Homo sapiens: one gene and its partners. The protein of the gene in region 1 interacts with the protein of each later gene in a pairwise test. Each region holds a gene or a part of one and is shown in the gene's direction. Other genes may lie near its edges.

The links.
Region 2: the proteins of E2F3 (region 1) and CCNF interact in a two-hybrid assay, tested with the Homo sapiens proteins (one study listed by BioGRID).
Region 3: the proteins of E2F3 (region 1) and MGA interact in a two-hybrid assay, tested with the Homo sapiens proteins (one study listed by BioGRID).

What each region holds. Positions count from the first base shown.
Region 1 is NC_000006.12:20,404,824-20,408,574, forward strand, and holds part of E2F3 (transcription factor E2F3), read left to right. Parts: intron 1-3,751.
Region 2 is NC_000016.10:2,446,402-2,450,152, forward strand, and holds part of CCNF (cyclin-F), read left to right. Parts: intron 1-2,453; coding exon 2,454-2,577; intron 2,578-2,880; coding exon 2,881-3,061; intron 3,062-3,426; coding exon 3,427-3,514; intron 3,515-3,751. UniProt on the Homo sapiens protein: Substrate recognition component of a SCF (SKP1-CUL1-F-box protein) E3 ubiquitin-protein ligase complex which mediates the ubiquitination and subsequent proteasomal degradation of target proteins.
Region 3 is NC_000015.10:41,761,402-41,765,152, forward strand, and holds part of MGA (MAX gene-associated protein), read left to right. Parts: intron 1-337; coding exon 338-449; intron 450-727; coding exon 728-961; intron 962-3,484; coding exon 3,485-3,661; intron 3,662-3,751. UniProt on the Homo sapiens protein: Functions as a dual-specificity transcription factor, regulating the expression of both MAX-network and T-box family target genes. Functions as a repressor or an activator.

The sequences.
Region 1 (3,751 bases):
TATTCCATGCTTTTATTAGCTTCAGATACTCTTACTGACTTGACCTAAGCATGTTTGGACATATTTTAAGCATATTTGACCCCTGCACAGTTCTGTTACTATTTCATAAACCTAACCTTAAACAACCAGCTATTGACATACTTCTTGGATTAGATTCACAGATTTGCAGGGGGTAGTTTTGATAATGGGAAATTATGAGAGCTTCAAGTTGATTTTTAAAAAATTTTAACAGTGTTTGTTGGGCCAGGTCCCTAAGACTATCTTTCAAGCCAGGTTTATTATATCTAGTTCATTGTATTTAAGTATTTAAAGTATACTAAATTACCCTCACCATCTTCCAAGTTATTTCAAAACTTTATTCTCCTTGACATGAAATTATTATTCCAGGAATAATAATATCCTTTTGAGTTTATGTGCACACAAAAGGTTTTTCATTACAGGAATATAAATGTTACTCATATACATATTCAGAAGCATTTTTTATATGATTGCAATGTATGCTGAATCATTGGTTATCTGCATTTTTTTTTTTTTTTTTTTTGAGACGGAGTCTCATTCTGTCGCCCAGGCTGGAGTGCAATGGCACGATCTCGGCTCACTGCAACCTCCGCCTCCCGAGTTCAAGCATTCTCCTGCCTCAGCCTCCTGAGTAGCTGAGATTACAGGCGTGAGCCACCACGCCTGGCCGGTTATCTACACTTTTAAGAGCTATTTCTACTGGCCGGGCGCTGTGGCTCATGCCTGTAATCCCGGTACTTTGGGAAGCCGAGGGGGGCGGATCACGCGGTCAAGAGATCCAGACCATCCTGGCCAACATGGTGAAACCCCGTCTCTACTAAAAATACAAAAATTAGCTGGGTGTGGTGGTGCGCGCCTGTAATCCCAGCTACTCAGGAGGCTGAGGCAGGAAAATCGCTTGACCCTGGGAAGCGGAGGTTGCAGTGAGCTGAGATCCCGCCACTGCACTCTAGCCTGGCGGCAGAGCGAGATTCCGTCTCAAAAAAGGAGCTGTTTCTTCTGGGAGGGTGTAGGAAATTTATCTAGTCAATGCATACAAAGTCTTAAGCACTGAATATAAAGTTTGATTTATTGTTTTTCTTATCGAAATTATATTAGACTTCCATGTAAGTCTTCGAATTTTGAATTTTGTTGATATTCTTTCCCTAAGCAGGAAAGACAGGATGGGGAAAGCTAAGTGATTGGCTGAACAAAGACCACCTAAACACTCTGTGTCCAAGAAGAGGTTGAAAAGTCTTCAGGTGGCCAGAGTTGCAGACCTATCTGGTTCTGATCCCAAGTTCTGTCTCAAGAATATCTAAGGACTTAACCAGAAGCAACTTCTTCACCTTTTTTTCAATGGGGGTAAAAATATGAGTACTACCTTACCAGCTGTAAAGCATCTATTATTTACAAATTGTATGTTCATTGGCAAATAACTTAATCTCTCAACTCAGTTTCTTCCTCTGTAACATAGGGACAAAAACAGTGTCACCTTTAAGGTTCTTTTGAAGAGTTAAATATGATAATGCATGTGAACTATTTAGCACAGTGCCTGGCAAAAAGTAGACACCCAGTACAATTCATATTTATTATACAAATGTTAATTTTTTTCTGACTTAGTGAAATAGTGTAAGGCCAGGTGCACATTGTCCCTTTGTTTACATATATGAAGAGAACTGTTAAAAGTCTTTAAGTGATCTGTAATTAATTATTTATGCCCAATTAATTTGGGCTTTTAAATATATAAAACATGGCCATCCTAGGGGTAAAATAGGGACATTTCAGTAAGACACGCCTATATAGAGATAGTGGTGTTGAACTGCCAAGCATATGCCTTGAATTGTGACAATTCAAGGCCACATCATCCTCACTTTTTTGCCTGAGTTCCACTCCGTCCATGATTCCACAGACCTGCCAACTTTTGGGTGCAGTTTATGCTTAGCGGCTTTTGTTAGACCTGAACTCTCAATCTTCACCATGTCAGAGACATGCATTAGACAAATTCCATCTTAGTTGGTGAACTGTTGGAAATGTAAGAACTCCAGAGAAACCATAGTCAGAAGTGCTACTCAATGGAGCAGACAAGGCTTCATCATTTTCTGCTGCTGCTTCTAAAAAGAAGCTGAAATTATTTTATTCTAGAAAATTTGGGATTTAATAATGTAAGAGACTATGTCCTGTCACAGTCATAGCAACCTACTGATTCTACTTTGGGAAAGAGCCCTCAGTGCTTGAAATTTTCATCTAAGAATGGAGAACCATAGGTGCTATTTCAGCAGGGTCTCTTTTCCTGTACAATTATAAAAAGAAAAGTGCCGGGTTCCTGTGGTTCTATACTCAATAATCTTGCTTCTGCTGAGATATATGGTTGATGCCAAGTTTAAGCTGGGAGACAATTTTTAGTCACTACATACCCCAAAATGGAAGTTTTAATATAATGCAGTGCCCAGACTTGGGCACTACAGGTAGCTCCACTATAATCAGTACCAAGGGCGCCACTCTAATCATCCTCTGAAACAAAGCACCCTTAAATATGGCACTGTGGGCTGAAGAACTCCACCTTGTGAACAGGAAAGGATTTTTTGTTTTTCTATAAATCGCCACCTTGTGTATTACTTGGAAGAATGGATTCTGAGATTAATGTTATACTGTGTAAAGCTAACTTGAAAACAGAAAATAATACTCTAAGCCTAGACGTGCATAAATAACATTACCTGGAGATTGACAGACGGGGTGAAAGCTTTTATTGTGGTTTCTCAGAAATATATAAAGCAGTAGTTTTCCTTTAACTCTTCTGTCTTTAATGCCATCTGCAAAGATATATCATCCATACCTTTAACCTCTTTCCTAGGGATTTGGACCCATTTGGCAAATAGCTTCAAGTACTCATAGTTAATTTTCTGGCTGGTTTTCCTAAGTTAACCTGATTTTACAAATATTCCATTTGTAGGACCAGTTTACATCTACTTTCCCAAGCTAGCCAACTTCAATTCCCTTTTAGTCATCTACTTCCTACTAACAGCTGTAACTAGGATGAGTCAAAATCAATTGCCTATGCTCACCAGATCCCTGATAAATTCCCATGAAGCCACCTGAAAGGTGGTAAAAGCAAGGTAAAACGTGGTGAAAGCAAGGTAAAGAAGGTAGATTTCACAATTTTGTTTTTTAAAAAGGGGAATCTTCCCTGAATTCTTTGAGGTACTAAGTACGTGGTTTAATGCATATTTTCATTCTTGTTAGCAGTTTAAAAATAATGTTTCAGAGACTGTATTCACGATTGCTAAAAAGCATTTTTTCTACTAATCATTGTTCATGGGACTTAACAATGGAAGATAACTGGGAAAGCAGTAAATATAGGAAACCACTAATAGTGTCTCCTTCTTCCTACCCTGACCCTCTCTTTGGCTTCAGAAAGTGACGAGGAAAATGTATCTTTCACAAAGAAAAGTTATACCACAGAAGGTACTAAAAAGCAACAACTGCCTTTGGGGACAGGAAACTTACAGAGTGGGGATTATTATAGAGGGATAACATACCGAGTTTCTATTTCAATAAGAGGGAAATTGGTTTATATTCTGTTCACACTTGTTTCAAACCCTCTCCTCTAAAAGCAATGTGTTTTTGGAATTCAAGGAATGTACGTTCTTTCCCCAACCTTAACTGGGGGTCAGTCTTATGGCCACCATATTTGTCTACAATATAACTTTTAAAAAATATAATTTTTGCCCTCAAATACTCTCCTATCCAATGC
Region 2 (3,751 bases), on another chromosome or scaffold:
CAGCCACGTGGGTGTCTCTCAGCAGCAGCGTGCGTCCTTACACGGCAGCCTGTCCTTTTCAAATCAGACCACTGCTTTCCTTTAACTAATGCTGGATCCCCTAGTTCCGCCTTTGGAAATAACGTGGAAATGATTCTCACAATACGATTTGCATTTCCTAAACCAGCTGTCCCCAGCATGGTCTACATTTCCCGAGGAAGTGCTTTCCAGACCGACTCCTCTGTAGAGCCTGGTGGGTGAGGATAGGCTTGGCTGCACACAGCATATGTGTAAGCTACAGAGACTTGTTTCTTTCTTGCACAGGTAACCCAGAGGCAGAGGTTCCAGGCTCAGGTCATTGGCATGTTTTTTGTTTCATGAGGAAGCAGAGGAGCCCCATCTCCCATCTTAATCTCTGCCACCAACTAGGGTGCTGCCCTTGTCCCTGTGACACCTGTACCTGCCACATTCACCTTTGCACTGAGCTTAGTCTTGTGACCACATCTCACCAGACGGGAACTGGGAGGTGTAGTCTCTTCGGGCCTGTGTGTGCCAGCTCGATGCAGTGTCATTCCCATGGAAGGAGGGAGCAAACCCTGCCACAAGCATCCAGAGCTGTCTTCAGATGCGCTCTTGGGCCTGAATCCAGCGTCCCAGGTCTTCCGACCAGAGACGACTGAGGAGGTCGGGCGGCCGCCTCCCTGGATCTGACTGCACATCCATCACTGCAACCTACGACAAAGCTCCTGGGCCACAACCGGCTGGCAGTGAGAGAATAACTGCTAAAAACGTTTCAGGGAGCTGAGTCCAATTTCTTCCCCAACCACAAGACCTGATTGCAGTGGTCCATATAACTATCACCACAGCTCCCTCAAATCAACTCTGCCTTATTATCTTTTTTTTTTTTTTTTTTAAATCCGGGGACCAGGCACGGTGGCTCACGCCTGTAATCCCAGCACTTTGGGAGGCTGATGTGGGCGGATCGTGAGGTCAGGAGTTCAAGACCAGCCTGGCCAACATGGTGAAACCCTGTCTCTACTAAAGATACAAAAAATTAGCTGGGCGTGGTGGTGCATGCCTGTAATCCCAGCTACTCAGGAGGCTGAGGCAGGAGAATTGCTTGAACCCGAGAGGCAGAGGTTGCAGTGAGCCAAGATTACACCATTGCACTGCAGCCTGGGCAATGGCGCAAGACTCTGTCTCAAAAAAATACAAACAAAATTAGCCAGACGTGGTAGTGGGCGCCTGTAGTCCCATCTACTTGGGAGGCTGAGGCATGAGAATCACTTGAACCTGGGAGGCGGAGGTTGCAGTGAGCTGAGATAGCGCCACTGCACTAATCCAGCCTGGGTGACAGAGGGAAACTCTGTCTCAAAAAAAAAAAGATTTTAAAGGCTGAGCTGCCCCCCACCTCTGCTCTCAGAGGTGCCCTGCCCCCACCAGCCATCTCACACCCCACGCTGGGCTCTCATTGGCCACTGACATCTTGTCTTTTTGGCGTCTGCAGCCCCCACGCTGGCAGGTGTAGTCCCTGCGCCTCTTGTCCTCTTGGTCAAGTGAATGACGCATGCAACCTGCAGAGTCCCCAGGACAGAGCAGCCAAGGGACTTGGCCTCAGTCCAAGGGGAAGGTGCCTTGCGGGGGGCCGCTGGAGCAGCGTGTTCCCTGATAGTTGGCGCTGGTTGACAACAGAGAACAGGGTGACCATCGCCTAGAGACAGTCAGGATTCCTGCGGCCACACAGTGCCGGGCACAGACTTTCCAACAACCCTTGGGCCCTTTGCCTCCAATTCCTAGATCTGGTGACTCACCCACCTTCTGGGTCTATAACATTTCTACCCCACTGATAGAGCTGTCACGTGACAGGCAAATCTCTGTCCTTGGTGTCTTTTAGCAAACTGAATGCTCAGGGCACTTGGGCCTTTTGCAGACATTTGTGAGTCTGCCTAACAGCCTTGCTGCTTTCTGTCTGCCTTGTGGCTCTCATCCCTCTTTCCAGCACTTTCTGACCTCCCCTTTGTTATTATTATGATGATTATTTTTTGAGACAGTGTCTTGCTCTGTCACCCAGGTTGGAATGCAGTGGTGTAATCAAAGCTCACTGCAGCCTCAACTTCCTGGGCTTAAGCAATCCTCCCACCTTAGCGTCCCAAGTAACTGAGACTATAGGCACGTGCCACCATGCTCTGCTAATTTTTTATTTTTTAACTTTTTGAAGAGATAGGGTCTTGCTTTGTTGCCCAGGGTGGTCTCGAACTCCTGGCTGAGCTGTCCTCCTGCCTGGGCCTCCCCTTTTTTAAATGCCCCTTGTCAGCCACAGGCAGCTGGCTCCATTATGAAGCCTCTGTTTGTCACCAAAGCCCAACGCCATGGCTCCCTCCCTACCTTGAGGCCTCCTAAAGCCTTGGGTCCCTCCGCCCCACCCCTGCCCCAGGAAGTGGGCTCCACCCTGAGACCCCTTCTCGGCGTTGCAGGTTTATCAGTAAAGAGATCCTGACCATCCGGGAGGCCGTATGGCTCACGGACAACACTTACAAGTACGAGGACCTGGTGAGAATGATGGGCGAGATCGTCTCCGCCTTGGAAGGGAAGATTCGAGTAAGCAGCGGTTCCATTTTCCTTATTAATCTTCGTTGTCGCTGTGCTGGAGGGTGGGGGTGGGCATTCAGCTTTCCTGCTGTGGGAGGGCCTCATGGACTCAGAGAGCAGCTGTCTCTGCTGTGCCCAAAGCCATGGAGCAGGAGGCCACGGTTGCACCACGTCGCCATCTGCGCTGGTGCGCTACGCGTGCAGCATCGGCGTGAACATCATCCGGGCCAGACCCTGCGCTGGGCCTGCATGCGGCACTGCACCAAGGAGCCCCCGAGCGCTGAGAGCCCACACCCCGTCCCGGCTGTCTAGGTCCCCACTGTGGTGGATTACAAGGAGGTCCTGCTGACGCTAGTCCCTGTGGAGCTGAGAACCCAGCACCTGTGCAGCTTCCTCTGCGAGCTCTCCCTGCTGCACACCAGCCTGTCCGCCTACGCCCCAGCCCGCCTGGCTGCCGCAGCCCTGCTCCTGGCCAGACTGACGCACGGGCAGAGTAAGGAGTGGCCCTTCCCAGGGATGCCTGTGTCGGGGAAGGTGCTGACATAGGAGGAGGCTGTGGGGAGGAAAAGAGTCCAGCATCCATTTGTCCTGGTTACTTCTTGGGGGGTGAGATACAGCACGGCTCCTACCTTCAGTGATGTCCCAGATTTCTGACCATGAGCCTGCACGCCCTATGTATGGGTTTTTTTCAAAACTATTTTAAAAGGATTGCAACCCTGAGCTCCAAGAAACTCCACAGCAGAGCCCACAGAGCTATAGAGCGGGAGTGTTCAGGCGGCTGTCACCACAGCCCCTCCGTCCCCTCCATCCCCTCCGTCCCCTCCATCCCCTCCACCCCTGGCCTGCTTTCCTCCCCAGCACAGCCCTGGACCACTCAGCTGTGGGACCTCACCGGATTCTCCTATGAAGACCTCATTCCCTGCGTCTTGAGCCTCCATAAGAAGTGGTGAGTTTTGGCCGGGCGCAGAGGCTCATGCCTGTAACCCCAGCACTTTGGGAGGCCGAGGCGGGCAGATCATTTGAGGTCAGGAGTTTGAGACCAGCCTGGCCAACATGGTGAAACCCCACCTCTACTAAAAATACAAAAATTAGCCAGGCGTGGTGGTGCACGCCTATAATTCCAGCTACTCAGGAGGCTGAGGCAGGAGAATCGCTTGAACCCAGGAAGCAGAGGTTGCAGTGA
Region 3 (3,751 bases), on another chromosome or scaffold:
ATTTTGGTTAGACTAGGAGTTGATCTTAAAGTTGATTATTAAAATCTAAGCAGAGCACAGGTGTTTTGTATCTCCTCGCAGTGGTGGAATACCTACTACCATTCAGTGATGCTCTTTGGAAATAATCATGGTCACATTCCTTAAAAGTGTAAGCCAGAAATCCTCTTACAGTTTAACAAAAAATAATTTCTGAAACATCAACAATTGTTAATGGAATTTAAAAATTCTCTTAAGATGTCAGATTAAGTTTTTTTTCATTAGAGAAATTGTATAGGCCTTAGCTGTGTTTAAAGAAAGAGTGGATCAATTTTCAATAATACCACTATTTGTATTCTAGGCCTTCAGTGAAATTCAGGGACTAACAGATCAGGCAGACAAATTGATAGGACAGAAAAATCTCCTGACTCGAAAACGGAATATTCTGATACGGAAAGTATCGTCTCTTTCAGGTGAGATAAGTAAATAATCTCTGGTAAAGAGCATAATTATAGCTTTATCAAGAAGAAATCCTCAGTAGATCTTTCAGATACTTAATTGAAAGCTTGGCTCCCACAGTTTACAGCACAGTTATCCTTTGACTGGGTGGTGGGTTGTTTCTTGTGAATTGTAATCACCTTACTTTCCATAGTTTTTGGGAATATAGTTAAAGCAACTAGATTTCTGTTGACTCTGTTTCTCATTATGTGGCGTAATGCTGAAAGTGCTAATGTATTCTGTTAACTTACAGGTAAGACAGAAGAAGTGGTCCTGAAGAAGCTAGAGTATATTTATGCAAAACAGCAAGCACTAGAGGCACAAAAAAGAAAAAAGAAGATGGGATCAGATGAGTTTGACATATCTCCCAGAATTAGCAAACAGCAGGAAGGATCTTCTGCATCATCTGTAGATCTTGGACAGATGTTTATAAATAACAGGAGGGGGAAACCTTTGATTCTTTCCAGAAAAAAAGACCAGGCCACAGGTAGGAGGGACATTCTTCGCTTTCCTTAATGTAGATATACATCAGTTGACTTTAGTGGACTGACCACCTTCTCTTGTCCACATTTTTAGTTTTGTGTGGTTTTTTTTTTTTTTTTTTTTTTTTTTTTTTGGAGACAGCTCTGTCGCCCAGGCTGCAGTTGCAGTGATGTGATCTCAGCTCATTGCAACCTCCACCTCCCAGGTTCAAGCGATTATCTGCTTCAGCCTCCTGAGTAGCTGGGACTACAGCGAGCACCACCATGCCCAATTTGTTTTTTTAATTTTTTAGTAGAGATGGGATTTTGCCCTGTTGGCCAGGCTAGTCTCAAACTCTTGACCTCAAGTGATCCACCCGCCTTGGCCTCCCAAAGTGCTGGGATTACAGGTGTGAGCAACCACACCCAGCCCACAGTTTTAGTTTTAATTAAATGAATTAAAGATGGGTTGTATAAAAAGTAGAATATTAACTACATTCGATTTTGGTTTCTGGTTGTAATACACACTCATGCAAATCCTGAGAAGTTACCAGTCCTGGTAGCATATTAGTCTATAGTCATGTATTTTTAATGAGTAGTTTTTTAAACTTATCTTTTCAGACTTATACTTGACTTCGTGATTTCCCTGCAGTTCTACTGATGGGTTTAAGAAGTTGGGTCTAGCTGAGACCAATAAATGGGAAATTTTTTGTAAAATTTAATTTTGTCAAATCAGGCTCTATTTTTCTTTCTTCCTTTTTTTTTTTTTTTTTTTTTTTTTGAGACAGAGTCTTGCTCTGTTGCCCGGGCTGGAGTGCAGTGGCGCGATCTTGGCTCACTGCAAGCTCCACCTCCTGGGTTCATGCCATTCTCCTGCCTCAGCCTCCCCAGTAGCTAGGACTATAGGCGCCTGCCACTACACCCGGCTAATTTTTTTTGTATTTTTAGTAGAGACGGGGTTTCACCGTGTTAGCCAGGATGGTCTCGATCTCCTGACCTCGTGATCCGCCCACCTCGGCCTCCCAAAGTGCTGGGATTACAGGCGTGAGCCACTGCGCCTGGCCATCAGGCTCTATTTTTCATCAGATCACTTACTTATTAATACATTACTATTAAGAAACAGTAGGCCGGATGCGGTGGCTCACGCCTGTAATCCCAGAACTTTGGGAGGCTGAGGCGGGCAGATCACCTGAGGTTGGGAGTTTGAGACTAGCCTGACTAACATGGAGAAACCCTGTCTCTACTAAAAATACAAAATTAGCCAGGTGTGGTGGCTCATGCCTGTAATCTCAGCTATTTAGGAGGCTGAGGCAGGAGAATCACTTTAACCCGGAAGGTGGAAGTTGTGGTGAGCTGAGATCACACCATTGCATTCCAGCCTGGGCAACAAGCACGAAACTCTGTCTGAAACAAAACAAAACAAAACAAAACAAAAACCCCAAAGTAAATTAGTCTTAACTTCTTATTACCATCTTGATTTTGGAAGTAAAGTTATATTGATTTTATGTGTTACTTATATTCTTAGAGAATGGTATATCTGGCTGGGCGCAGTGGCTCATGCCTGTAATCCCACCCCTTAGGGAGGCAGAGGCAGGAGGATTGCTTGCACTCAGGAATTTGAGACCAGCCTTGGGCAACATGGTGAAACCCTGTCTCTACTAAAAATACCAAAATTAGCCGGATGTGGTGGTGCACACCTGTAGTCCCAGCTACTTGGGAGGCTGAGGCAGGAGAATCACTTGAACCCGGGTGGCGGAGGCTGCAGTGAGCTGAAATCACACCACTGTGCTCTAGCCTGTGTGACAGAGTGAGACTCCATCTCAAAAAAAATTAAAAAAAAAAATGGTATATTCTTTTTTACTCTTTAAATGTTTGGATAGCCCAGTGTATGAGCCAAAAAAAATCTGGTGTGGGTATTTTTTTTTTTTTTTTTTTGAGACGGAGTCTCGCTCTGTTGCCCAGGGTAGAGTGCGGTGGCGCAATCTAGGCTCACTGCCAGCTCCGCCTCCCAGGTTCACGCCATTCTTCTGCCTCAGCCTGCCGTGTAGCTGGGACTACAGGCGCCCGCCACCACGCCTGGCTAATTTTTTGTATTTTTAGTAGAGATGGGGTTTCACCGTGTTAGCCAGGATGGTCTTGATCTCCTGACCTCGTGATCCACCTGCCTCGGCTTCCCAAAGTGCTGGGATTACAGGCGTCAGCCACCGCACTTGGCTGTTTTGTTTTGAGAAGGGCCTCACTCTGTAGCTCAGGCTGGAGTGCAGTGTCTCGCTTGCAGCCTTGACCTCCTGGGCTTAAGCAATTCTCCCACCTCAGCCTTCCTAGTAGCTGGGACCACAGGTGCACACCACCACACCCGCCTAATTTAAAAAAATTTTTCTTGTAGAGATGGAGATGGGGTCTCACCATGTTTCCCAGGCTGGTCTTGAACTCCTGGGCTCAAGTGATCTGCCTGCCTCAGCCTCCCAAAGTGCTGGGATTACAGGCATGAGCCACCACACCCAGCTGAATGCCTTTTATCTATAACTAATTTCTGATCTTTCTTACAGAAAATACCTCACCCTTGAACACTCCACACACCTCTGCCAACCTTGTGATGACTCCGCAAGGGCAATTGCTCACCCTAAAAGGTCCCCTATTCTCAGGACCAGTGGTAGCTGTTTCTCCTGATCTCTTAGAATCTGATCTTAAGCCTCAAGTTGCCGGTAGTGCTGTGGCTCTACCAGGTATGTTGTAAGTGTTGTCCTCTATGGGAAGTGATAAAGTTATCCCTAACATCTCACGGTGACCAAGGAAGGCTTTGGATGTGTTCTGTA